Regions from separate parts of the Homo sapiens genome. Here region 1 is linked to region 2. The links come from fine-mapping of genetic effects on gene expression. A gene starts in region 2. The other region holds a variant in brackets. All regions are shown on one strand. Distances are from middle to middle.

The links. PIP is the estimated chance that this variant, and not a neighbour inherited with it, causes the effect.
Region 1: its variant is fine-mapped to the expression of RSRC1 in whole blood (INTERVAL, PIP 0.94).

Annotation. Positions count from the first base shown.
Region 1 is chr3:158,440,391-158,445,780 of GRCh38, forward strand. The region is part of intron 6 of RSRC1 (arginine and serine rich coiled-coil 1); the gene reads left to right. Among named protein-coding and RNA genes, the nearest start is that of UC.134, 84 kb to the right of the region's middle. The variant T/A (reference allele first, on the strand shown) is at 2,453.
Region 2 is chr3:158,106,760-158,112,149 of GRCh38, forward strand. RSRC1 (arginine and serine rich coiled-coil 1) reads left to right here and starts at 3,330. Exons shown (of 10, transcript NM_001271838.2): 1 at 3,330-3,464. RefSeq lists enhancers at 1-352, 2,991-3,492, 3,294-3,643, 3,493-3,992, 3,854-3,903.

The DNA.
Region 1 (5,390 bases), 330 kb after region 2:
CCTCTGAGAAAAGTAGTCTAAATTTCTTTGCTTAGTTTTCAGTCTCCAGGGGATCTTTGGACAAGATAAAGAAGTAGTTCAGGCATACCTTTCCCAAACGAACCAAAATTATTGAAAATTTAAATTATTGAAATTTACATTTTAATTAAGCTGTTATCTATAAATCTCCCAATTTCTGCTTAAAAGTACATTTGCCCACACATGCACGTGTGCACACACACACAAATCCACACCAGATTCTATAGCATGTTTCAGAAATATTAGAGAAACCAGTTGGGCGCAGTGGCTCATGCCTGTAATTCCAGCACTTTGGGAGGCTGAGGTGGGTGGATCACCTGAGGTCAGGAGTTTGAAACCAACCTGACGAACATGGTGAAACCCCATCTCTAATAAATATACAAAATTAGCTGGGTGTGGTGGCGCTGCCTGTAATCCCAGCTACTTGGGAGGCCGAGGTAGGAGAATTGCTTGAACCCAGGAGGCAGAGCTTGCAGAGACCCGAGATCACCCCATTGCATTCCAGCCTGGGCAACATGAGCAAAACTCCATCTCATAAGAAAAAAAATGAAAGAAAATAAATATTAGAGAAATCACTTTCAGGTGTTTGAAGTGAAATCTCTTGCATGGTTTTATGTTTTTATTAATCGTACATAAGCATTCAGCTGCTTAACTTATAGGTCTTAATTTTTAATAATGTTATTAAATGGCCCAAAAAGAATAATGTATCTGTCTGCTTCTCCTACAGTCTGTTGGAATGTTAACAAATGGAATGATAGGACAATTTCTATGATTCTCTAAATCTGGGTTATGAAGTGTATCTTTACTTTCTGACTTCTTGGCAGTATTCATTGAGTCATATATTAAGCATCTGTTGTTTAGCAATATATTGAGTACTAGGGTTAAACAGATGAGCTGAAGAGACAAAGTCTACTAAAACGTTTTGAAGATCTACGATCTTATCTTGGCAAAATACAAACAAAGACTTTTTTAAATATATTGGCAACAAGATATTAACAAAAGAAAGAACCAAACACCCAAGGTATTGTGCTATCAGTAGGGTTTTTTTTTTATTTTTGGAGCAAGAATATTCCTGCATCCTGGATCATGAGGCCCATAATAACATGATTAAGATTTGGGGTCACAAGATGTGTTATTTAACAGATAATCTCTCCAATTCCTAATAAACTTGTGTATTCTCTTCTGTTATTCTCAAGTAATACTTCTCAAAGTGTAGAACCTAGAACTGCAACATTAGCATCACATGGAACTTGTTAAAAATGCAAAATCTCAGAATACAGCAATACAGTAGAAGAATTATAACTTGTGTGCATCTGATAACACAACTTCAGGATACATAAAGCAAAATTGACACGATTGTGAGGATAAACTGTGAATCTTGTCACCATGGTGAGAGAAGTATTAAACTAAACAACAAACTTACAGTATGCTCTAGTGAATACAAAGGACCCTGAACTCAAGATTTAGGGAATATACAGGCATACTTCAGAGATACTGTGGGTTTGATTCCAGACCACCACAACAAAGCAAATGCCACAGTAATGCAAATCACAAATTTTTTGATTTCCCTACCAGTGCATATAAAAGTTATGTTTATACTGTACTGTAGTCTATTAAGTGTATAATAGCATTGTCTAAAAAACAATGTACATGACTTAATTAAAAAATATTTTATTACTAAAACATGCTGACAAGTCATCTGAGCCTTTAGTGAGGAGGGTCTCACCTTGATGTTTATGGCTGCCCATTGATGAGGGTGGCGGTTGCTGAAGGTTGGGATGGCTGTGGCAGTTTCTTAAAATAAGACAGTGAAGTTTGCAATGATTGACTCTTTCATAAAATATTTCTCTGTAACATGCAATGCTATTAGATAGCATTTTACCCACGGTAGAATTTCTTTCAACATTGGAGTCAATCCTCTCAAACTGTGTTGCTGCTTTATCAACTAAGTTTTTGTATAATACTCTAAATCATTTGTTGTCATTTTTAACAATGTCCCCAACATCTTTAACAGGAGTATATTCCATCTAAGGAACAATTTTTTTTGTTAATACTTAAGAAGCAATTTCTCATCCCTTCAGGTTCAGTCACATCTTCATGCTCCACTTCTAATTCTAGTTCTCTTGCTATTTTTACCACAAACTGCAGTTACATCCTCCACTGAAGTCTTGAGCCCTTCAAAATCATCCATGAGGGGTTTGAAGCTACTTCTTCCAAACCCCTGTTAATGTTGCTATTTTGACCTCCTCCCAGGAATCACAAATGTTCTTAATGGCATTTAGAATGGCAAAATCCTTTCCAGAAGGTTTTCATTTACTTTGGAAGTCCATCAGAGGACTTTCAAGTCTTATTGTTTAAGAAATACATTTTATAGGGCTATAGCTGCCATAGCCCTAGAAAATGTATTTCTTAAACAGTAAGACTTGGAAGTCAA[T/A]TTTTCTGTGATCTGTGGGCTGCAAAATGAATGTTCTGTTAGCAGGCGTGAAAACAGCATTAATCCTCTTGTATGTCTCCATCAAAGCTCTTGGGTGACCAGGTATACTGTCAATAAGCAATAATATTTTAAAAGAAATCTTTTTTTTCTGAGCAACAGATCTCAACAGTGGGCTTCAAATAATCATAAACCATGCTATAAACAGCTGTGCTGTTATCCAAGCTTTGTTGTTCCATTTATAGAGCACAGGCAGAGTAGATTTAGCATCATTCTTAAGGACCCTTAGATTGTTAGAATGAGAAATGAGCCCTGGCTTCAAGCTTAAAGTCACCAGCTGCGTTAGCCCCTGACACGAGAGTCAGCTTGTCCTTTGAAGCTTTGACACCAGGCATTGACTTCCTCTCTCTACCTATGACAATCCTAGATGGCATCTTCTTTCCTAGAAAGCGGTTTTGTCTGCATTGAAAATCTGTCATTTAGCGTAGCCGCCTTCATCAATGATCTTAGCTAGATCTTCTGGATCACTTGCAGCAGCCTTTCCATCAGCATTGCTGCTTCACCTTGCACTTTTATGTTATGAAGATTACTTCTTTCCTTAAACCTCACAAGCCAACTTCTGATAGCTTTAGACTTTTCTTCAGCAGCTTCCTCACCTCTGTCAGCCTTCACAGAATTTAAGAAAGTTAGGACTTTGCTCTGGATTAGGCTTTTGGCTAAGCTTAATGGTATGGCTGGTTTAATTTTCTACCTAGACCACTCAAACTTTGTCCCTATCAGCAATAAGGATGTTTCACTTTCTTACCATTTATGTGTTCACTTGAGTAGCACTTTTAATTTCTATCAAGAACTTTTCCTTTGCATTCACAATGTGTTGCACTATTTGGCACAAGAGGCCTATCTTTTCCCTCATCTCAGCTTTTGACATGCGTTCTCACTAAGCTTAGTCATTTCTGGCTTTTCATATGAAGTGAGAGATGTGTGGCTCTTCCTTTCACTTGAACACTCAAAGGCTATTGTAGGGTTGCTGATGGGCCTTATTTCAGTATTGTTGTGTCTCAGGGAACAGAGAGGTACAGGGAGAGGGCAAGAGACAGAGGAACAGCCAGTTGGTGGCACAGTCAGAAAACACACATACACTTATCAATTAAGTTAATTGCCCTATATGGGCCTGGTTTGTGGCATCCCAAAACACAGCAGTAGCATCAAAAATCACTGATCACAGGTGACAGATATCAACAGATGTAATAATAGCTAAAAAGCTTAAAGTATTGTCAGAATTACCAAAATGTGTCTTCACAGAATTGGAAAAAACTACTTTAAACTTCATATGGAGCCAAAAATGAGCCCACATTGCCAAGACAATCCTAAGCCAAAAGAACAAAGCTGGAGGCATCACACTACCTGACTTCAAACTATACTACAACGCTACAGTAACCAAAACAGCAAGGTACTGGCACCAAAACAGAGATATAGACCAATGGAACAGAACAGAACCCTCAGAAATAATACCACACATCTACAACCATCTGATCTTTGGCAAACCTGACAAAAACAAGCAATGGGGAAAGGATTCCCTATTTAATAAATGGTGCTGGGAAAACTGGCTAGCCATATATAGAAGGCTGAAACTGGATCGCTTCCTTACACCATATACAAAAAGTAAGTCAAGATGGATTAAAGACTTAAATATTAGACCTAAAACCATAAAAACCCTAGAAGAAAACCTAGGCAATACCATTCAGGACGTAGGCATGGGCAAGGACTTCATGTCTAAAACAGCAAAAGCAATGGCAACAAAAGCCAAAATTGACAAATGGGATCTAATTAAACTAAAGAGCTTCTACACAGCAAAAGAAACTACCATCAGAGTGAACAGGCAACCTGCAGAGTAGGAAAATTTTTTGCAATCTACTCATCTGACAAAGGGCTAATATCCAGAATCTACAAAGAACTCAAACAAATTTACAAGAAAAAAACAACCCCATCAACAAATGGGCGAAGGATATGAACAGACACTTCTCAAAAGAAGACATTTATGCAGCCAAAAGACACATGAAAAAATGCTCATCATCACTGGCCATCAGAAAAATGCAAATCAAAACCACAATGAGATACCATCTCACACCAGTTAGAATGGCAATCATTAAAAAGTCAGGAAACAACAGGTGCTGGAGAGGATGTGGAGAAATAGGAACACTTTTACACTGTTGGTGGGACTGTAAACTAGTTCAACCATTGTGAAAGACAGTGTGGCGATTCCTCAAGGATCTAGAACTAGAAATACCATTTGACCCAGCCATCCCATTACTGGGTGTATACCCAAAGGAATATAAATCATGCTACTATAAAGACATATGCACGGGTATGTTTATTGCGGCACTATTCACAATAGCAAAGACTTGGAACAAACCCAGATGTCCATCAGTGATAGACTGGATTAAGACAATGTGGCACATACACCCCATGAAATACTATGCAGCCATAAAAAAGGGTGAGTTCATGTCCTTTGTAGGGACATGGATGAAGCTGGAAACCATCATTCTCAGCAAACTATCGCAAGGACAAAAAACCAAACACCACATGTTCTCACTCATAGGTGGGAATTGAACAATGAGAACACTTGTTCACAGGAAGGGGAACCTCACACACCGGGGCATGTCGTGGGGTGGGGGTAGCGGGGAGGGACAGCATTAGGAGATACACCTAACATAAATGACGAGTTAATGGGTGCGGCACACCAACATGGCACATGTATATATATGTAACAAACCTGCATGTTGTGCACATGTACCCTCGAACTTATAACAACAACAACAACAACGAAAAAAACGAAGTATGCCTACACAGTTTTTCCAAGTACCAATTAAACATTTCCAAAATGGACCATTTTTTAATAAAGCAAATCTAAACAGGCCAATGATTATTAATAGACTATATT
Region 2 (5,390 bases):
GGCCATTAATCCAGGATTGACAAGAATCCCTAATTAATTTAATTAGGCGTGGATTTTGCGTTGGTGTCACGACTTAGTTAAACACTGGGGAGCTGGATAGACCCCGCGGGGTGGGGCCAAGAGGAAACTGACAAGTGCGCAGCTCTTAGAGTCAGTCAGGTATCCCGACACTGCATCCTTCCCTACAGCCTTGCTTCGAGTCAGGGTGCCTCGCAATGCTCAGCTTCGCATTGCTTTTCCTCGTCCCTGCCCTGCATCAACCGCCCAGCAGTTTACAGGCCCCGCATCCCATTCCCGCATCCTGACCCCGCATCCCAATTCTGCATCCCCGCCTCTCCCTCACAATCCCACCCCTGCCGGCCGTAGCTCCACCGCCCAGCATCATCCTGCCCAGAGACAGGGTTGCCTGCACCTTCTCCGACCCGCGCAGCTTCTCTTAGGAGCTTCCCGGCTCGCAGGCAGGCTGAGTCCGGGTCTTCTCCAAGCTCCTCGCCCCTCGGTCCGTGTTATTCGCTCTATTATTCGTGTCCTGGAGCCCAGCTGACTCCTCTATGGACAGACCCCGCTAAAAGGGACCAGTCGATTTAACAAGTTTCCCCAGCAGCTGTTAGCTGACAGATCTCATTTTAAAGTGTTTCCTTAGCGCCCGGTCAAGGACAGCTCGACTTCGTTCGTTTCCTCTCTGAGGTCTCAGAACTCCCACCCTTCTCCCTTACTCTCTGCACTCGGACCCCTCTATGGTGAATTACAGGACTTCTTCTTTAGCATCTTGGGAAACATCCGAGTTTATTTACTAATTTGAAAAACAAGAGATTATCCCTCTTCGAGTCTGAAAAAAAAATCGACGTTAAGTTTGTACCCCCTCTAATTTCATTTATTACGGAGAGCTAAAAAAGAGACGCTCGCCAGGAGTAAAGGTCTCTCTGCCTACCCCCCCCACCACCCCGCTTACGATTTAAAATTCTATTTCTGGGCTATTTTCATCGGAACGGTTTGTTACGTTAGAGGAACATCTATATTCCTGAGTCATTTGTCTGTATTGTGCCGGACAGGGCTTGCTGTGAGAAGTGTGGCTATGCAAATACATACTCACAAAAGAATATTTACATATGATGTTATATTTAAGTGTGTAAACAAATATACCTCTAAGTGTGGCTTAGGGGACATTTTCAAGTACTCTGAATATTAATGCAGACTTTCTGGAAGTTAAAGGTAACTTGATCATTATTTTGGATCTAATACTCTTAGTAAAAATAAGAGGAATTACAGAACATTAATATGTATATCTTCCGTATATTGGTTAAGGCATCAAAACAAATTAGCAGATAATTTAAGAAGTTCCGTCAAAACAACCTGAAACACTTGCAAAAAGAGAACACAATTATAACTTAATATATTAGTGTTTCTCAAATAGATGTAGATAGAAGCTGGATATAACCTTATGTTATACTACAATACTCACATTAAAATGTTCATGTTTGGTGAGTTTAAGGATTATGTATATCATGCTTTTTAGAAACGTTGTTTTCCCTTTTTAAAACATTTCATTTTTTGCCACTTTTAGGAGAGCTAATGTCTATAATTTTTCCGCAGCTATAGCTTTTAGGTATGAATACATTGTTATCAGTACTTGCTTTTGTTTTGTTACACCACAAAAGGGACAAAGTTTCAAAGTTATACGAATTTAGAAACAATTTCACATTGAGTCTTGGGTTACTCTTTGTAACTACTTTCTGATATTATCAGAGGAAAATAATCATACAACTTTAGTCCTTTATGAAAATCTGTTTTTAAGATTATTTAGCAGAAGGGCCAGTAATAGGGAGAGCTAAGAGGATACGGTGCTCAAGGTGCTCTCAAACTGAGGTGTTAAATACATATTCACAAATAACTCAAAAATAACCACTGTTAGAAGTCGGTTAAGGAATCAGGAGACCCACCAGCTACTTGTTTGCCTTTTTAAGTACATGACTTTTAGGTTTGAAGTCATATTTCATCTACTGAGCTTGAGGGAAAGATGACCACTTTGAAGGTAATCAGGGAAGTCACAGACACAACTATTGTGTAATTCAAACCAATAAATTTTCCCATGATCTCAGCTTTTTGGCTCATTGCATATTTAGGAATAGTAGTGTTGATAACAGATGGAGCCATGAGAAATCTTTAGTGTCTGACCACAGATTTCCACTGGCCTAAGGGAAGTTACTTTAAAAAATATTTCAAGGTTTTAAATTCATACATTAATAAATGCTCACAAAGTTCCAATGATGTTGTTTCATTAAACAGCAAATATCTTCCAGAAACAGGGCATTTCAAAATACAGTTTTTGTTTAAAAAAAAAAAAAAGCATTTATGGTAAAGCTCAGCTGACAGTCTGTGGACAGATGCACAGGTTCCAATAAAATTCAGGACCCCAAGGGTTTCCCCAGCTCTTGAATTATTTAAAATATACACGTAGTGTTGTAGTAGTTAAGTTTTAAAACGGTGCCTCAAAACTGGCTAGTTAAGGTACATTATTTACGAAAAATATATTGTGGAGGTGATTTTTCACCATCTCAAATGTCTGCGGAAAACTGTAGCTTGGTTATCTAGCAGTGGTGAATGAGTTGATTCTCATAGTCGACCAAAACCCAGGCCAACAATTTATTTATCTTTTTAGCTTTGCTTAAGAGTAAATGAGGAAAAAATTTCCATGTAAGGAAAAATAAGTAATGTAGTATGAATTACAGAAAATGCTGAGTCTCTTTAATTTCTATTGGTTTAAATAAAAAAACTCCACACACCTATAAATTTGAGTTCTCTTTCAGAAGAAACCGCTCCCCGCCTCGCCTCAGGCAGCTCTCTCCTATTCCTCTACTAACCAGTTACTTTAATCTGAGAAACTAATTTGCACTCAACTTGTGAGTGCCTTCACCTTCAGGGCAGAAGAAACACCGACTTTTAATGCATTTTTGCAAATAAATCATTACAATTTAATCACACACGACTCTATACAGACACACTCCCATGATTTATTATCGTTGGGCGAGTTTCCCCCTCCCCCAGCGTGAGATAACCAATTTTGTTTCGGGTAGGTGTCATAAACAAAACTTCCTACGATGCAGATTTGTTTACTGATTACCCATGACGATAACGACGACTACTAAGACAATAACACTCTCCAGTCCCACCTTTATTGCTTTTGGTAACAATAAAATCAAAATAAACAGGCACGCAAAACAAACGCCAAACAAAAAATCGGCCGCGTTACAATCTACTCCCTCGGCATTCCCAGCGCCTGGCAGCGTCCATCGATGCACTCGATATCTCGGCTGAAGCTGCCTGGCGCTAGAACCAGGAAGGCGCTGAGCTTAAACTGAAGCAAGTTCGGTGGACGCCGGCGGCGCCCTGATCTAAAGAAACGACTCAGGGACTGCGGCGCTTGCACGTCAACGGGAGGTGTGAGCCCAAAGGTCTGGACCCAGGTGATGCCCACGACCAGGGCCTGGGGAGCGGCAGCCGTGGCTGCGGAGCTCCGAGGCCCTGATCCGGCGAGAGGCGACGCGGGGCCTGGCGCAGTTTGCGGCTCAGTGTCTGTGGAGGGTGGGCTGCGGCCTCGGGGCGTGCGCAGTGTCACCGTGCGCATGCGTCCCGCACCTGGGAGGCTCCGGACTCCTTGGGTCAAGGCTGGTGGCTGTAGGGTGGGTGGGTGGCCGCAGGCCTCAAGCTTGGCCTTCTGTCTTGAGGACATGTCGGAGAGTTCGCCGACTCCTCCCCTCGCCCCACGTTCCTGGTTCTTCATAGCTGCTTTTGGGTTTCCTGGCTCATCTTGCAATATAAGCCTGGCGCTTCCTCACTAGCTCTAGGTAGGGTGGAGCAAGAGGGAGGCTGGATTCTGGTGCCCTCTATCCCATCCACTCCACTGTCCCTGCCTTAGATCCAGCTCTCTTTCTGATTCCGCCCTACCCTTTCTGGCTCACACTGGCTTGCTGAGAGAAGTGGTGCAGGGTGAAATAGATGTTCCTCTCTTGAAATATAAATATGCTCGCCTTAAACACACTATATATTCCTTTGACTTCTGTACTGGTGGCATGTGACCAAGAGCATATGGCTCTGTTTACTTTTGCAAGATGTTACAATGCACCGTAAGGCATGTTGCCTGCTCTTGATTTTAGGTTAACCTTGACGTAATTTCTCTCTCAGAGGTTGTGTATCTTTAAATGCACACTGGAAACCTAAACAAAAAAATATTTTTTTACACTTTCAGAATTAGCAGTAACCCAATTGTGTTCCAGCTAACTAGGTAGTAGATAAATAAATTCAAATGTCTTATGTTGTCACAAGAAAGCATTCGAGTTGTCATCTTTGAACTTAGATGTATTATAAAAGTTCTAAGTGAAGGAGGTAAGCAGAGTTCCCAGGTTTAAGATTTGGAGCAGGTGTGACAGTTGCAACCTTGGGGGAAACTAGGTATCCTTTAAGAGCCTCTCTAGTCTTAGAGTTTATAAATATTCACTTTCTTTGCAGGCAAAGATTTCATGCTAAGTGATATAACACTTTATGTTTTTCAATAAGAGGGCTAAAAATGTCAGAATCTGAAACGACAAAAACAGCTGGCACCTTCTGTTAATTGGCCTTGCCAACTCAACCAGTCTCACAAAGAGGGGTGTTATGAATTGGAAAAGTTCTGAAAGCGGGTTGTTTATAGTAGATCTATAGTTGTATTTCCTGCTTTCATGTTCAAACCATTGGGGATAAATTCCTATGATTGATCATGCTTTTTTAAAAAGAGAGATGCTTGCAAGTTTTTAATTGTGATGGGAGAAGTGTTTTGACAGAATTCTTTATCTCTTTTGAGATAAAGAGTTGTGTACTTGTTTATGGATTTCTTAATATGTTAGTTTTCACCCCAGTTTTACTTTTCTTCTTTGAGGTGGATTTCCCATTGAAATAACCATTGTTTTCACTTTTTCTGGCCATGTGTCCAGAATCAAGAAAATTATAGTTTGATATACTGAGTGAGTAGTGGAGAAGTAATTATAAGCTATCATGTCCTTTGGAAATCTTTGTTCTTCAAACTGATTGCCTGTTTTCTGAAAGAGATAACTGCTTCTTGTACCCTTATCAATAACTGGACAAAGGAACTACTTGTGTAGTCCTTTGAGTTCTCTTTTCTTGAATGACCACATGTTGGCTTTACCTCTTCAATCAGGCACGTGAACTTTACATTAAGATATTTCTGTAAATTGATCTCCTCCTGTAGTCATTACATGCCATGGCTTCAGTTCTGTAGTGGGAGTTGTTGGGTGAGTTTTGCAACCACGAGGCTACAACCAGGAAGAACTAGAGTGAGAACAGGAAACCAAGAGCTATAGGAGCTCTGTCCCATGTTGTCTCTTTCACCTACAGAT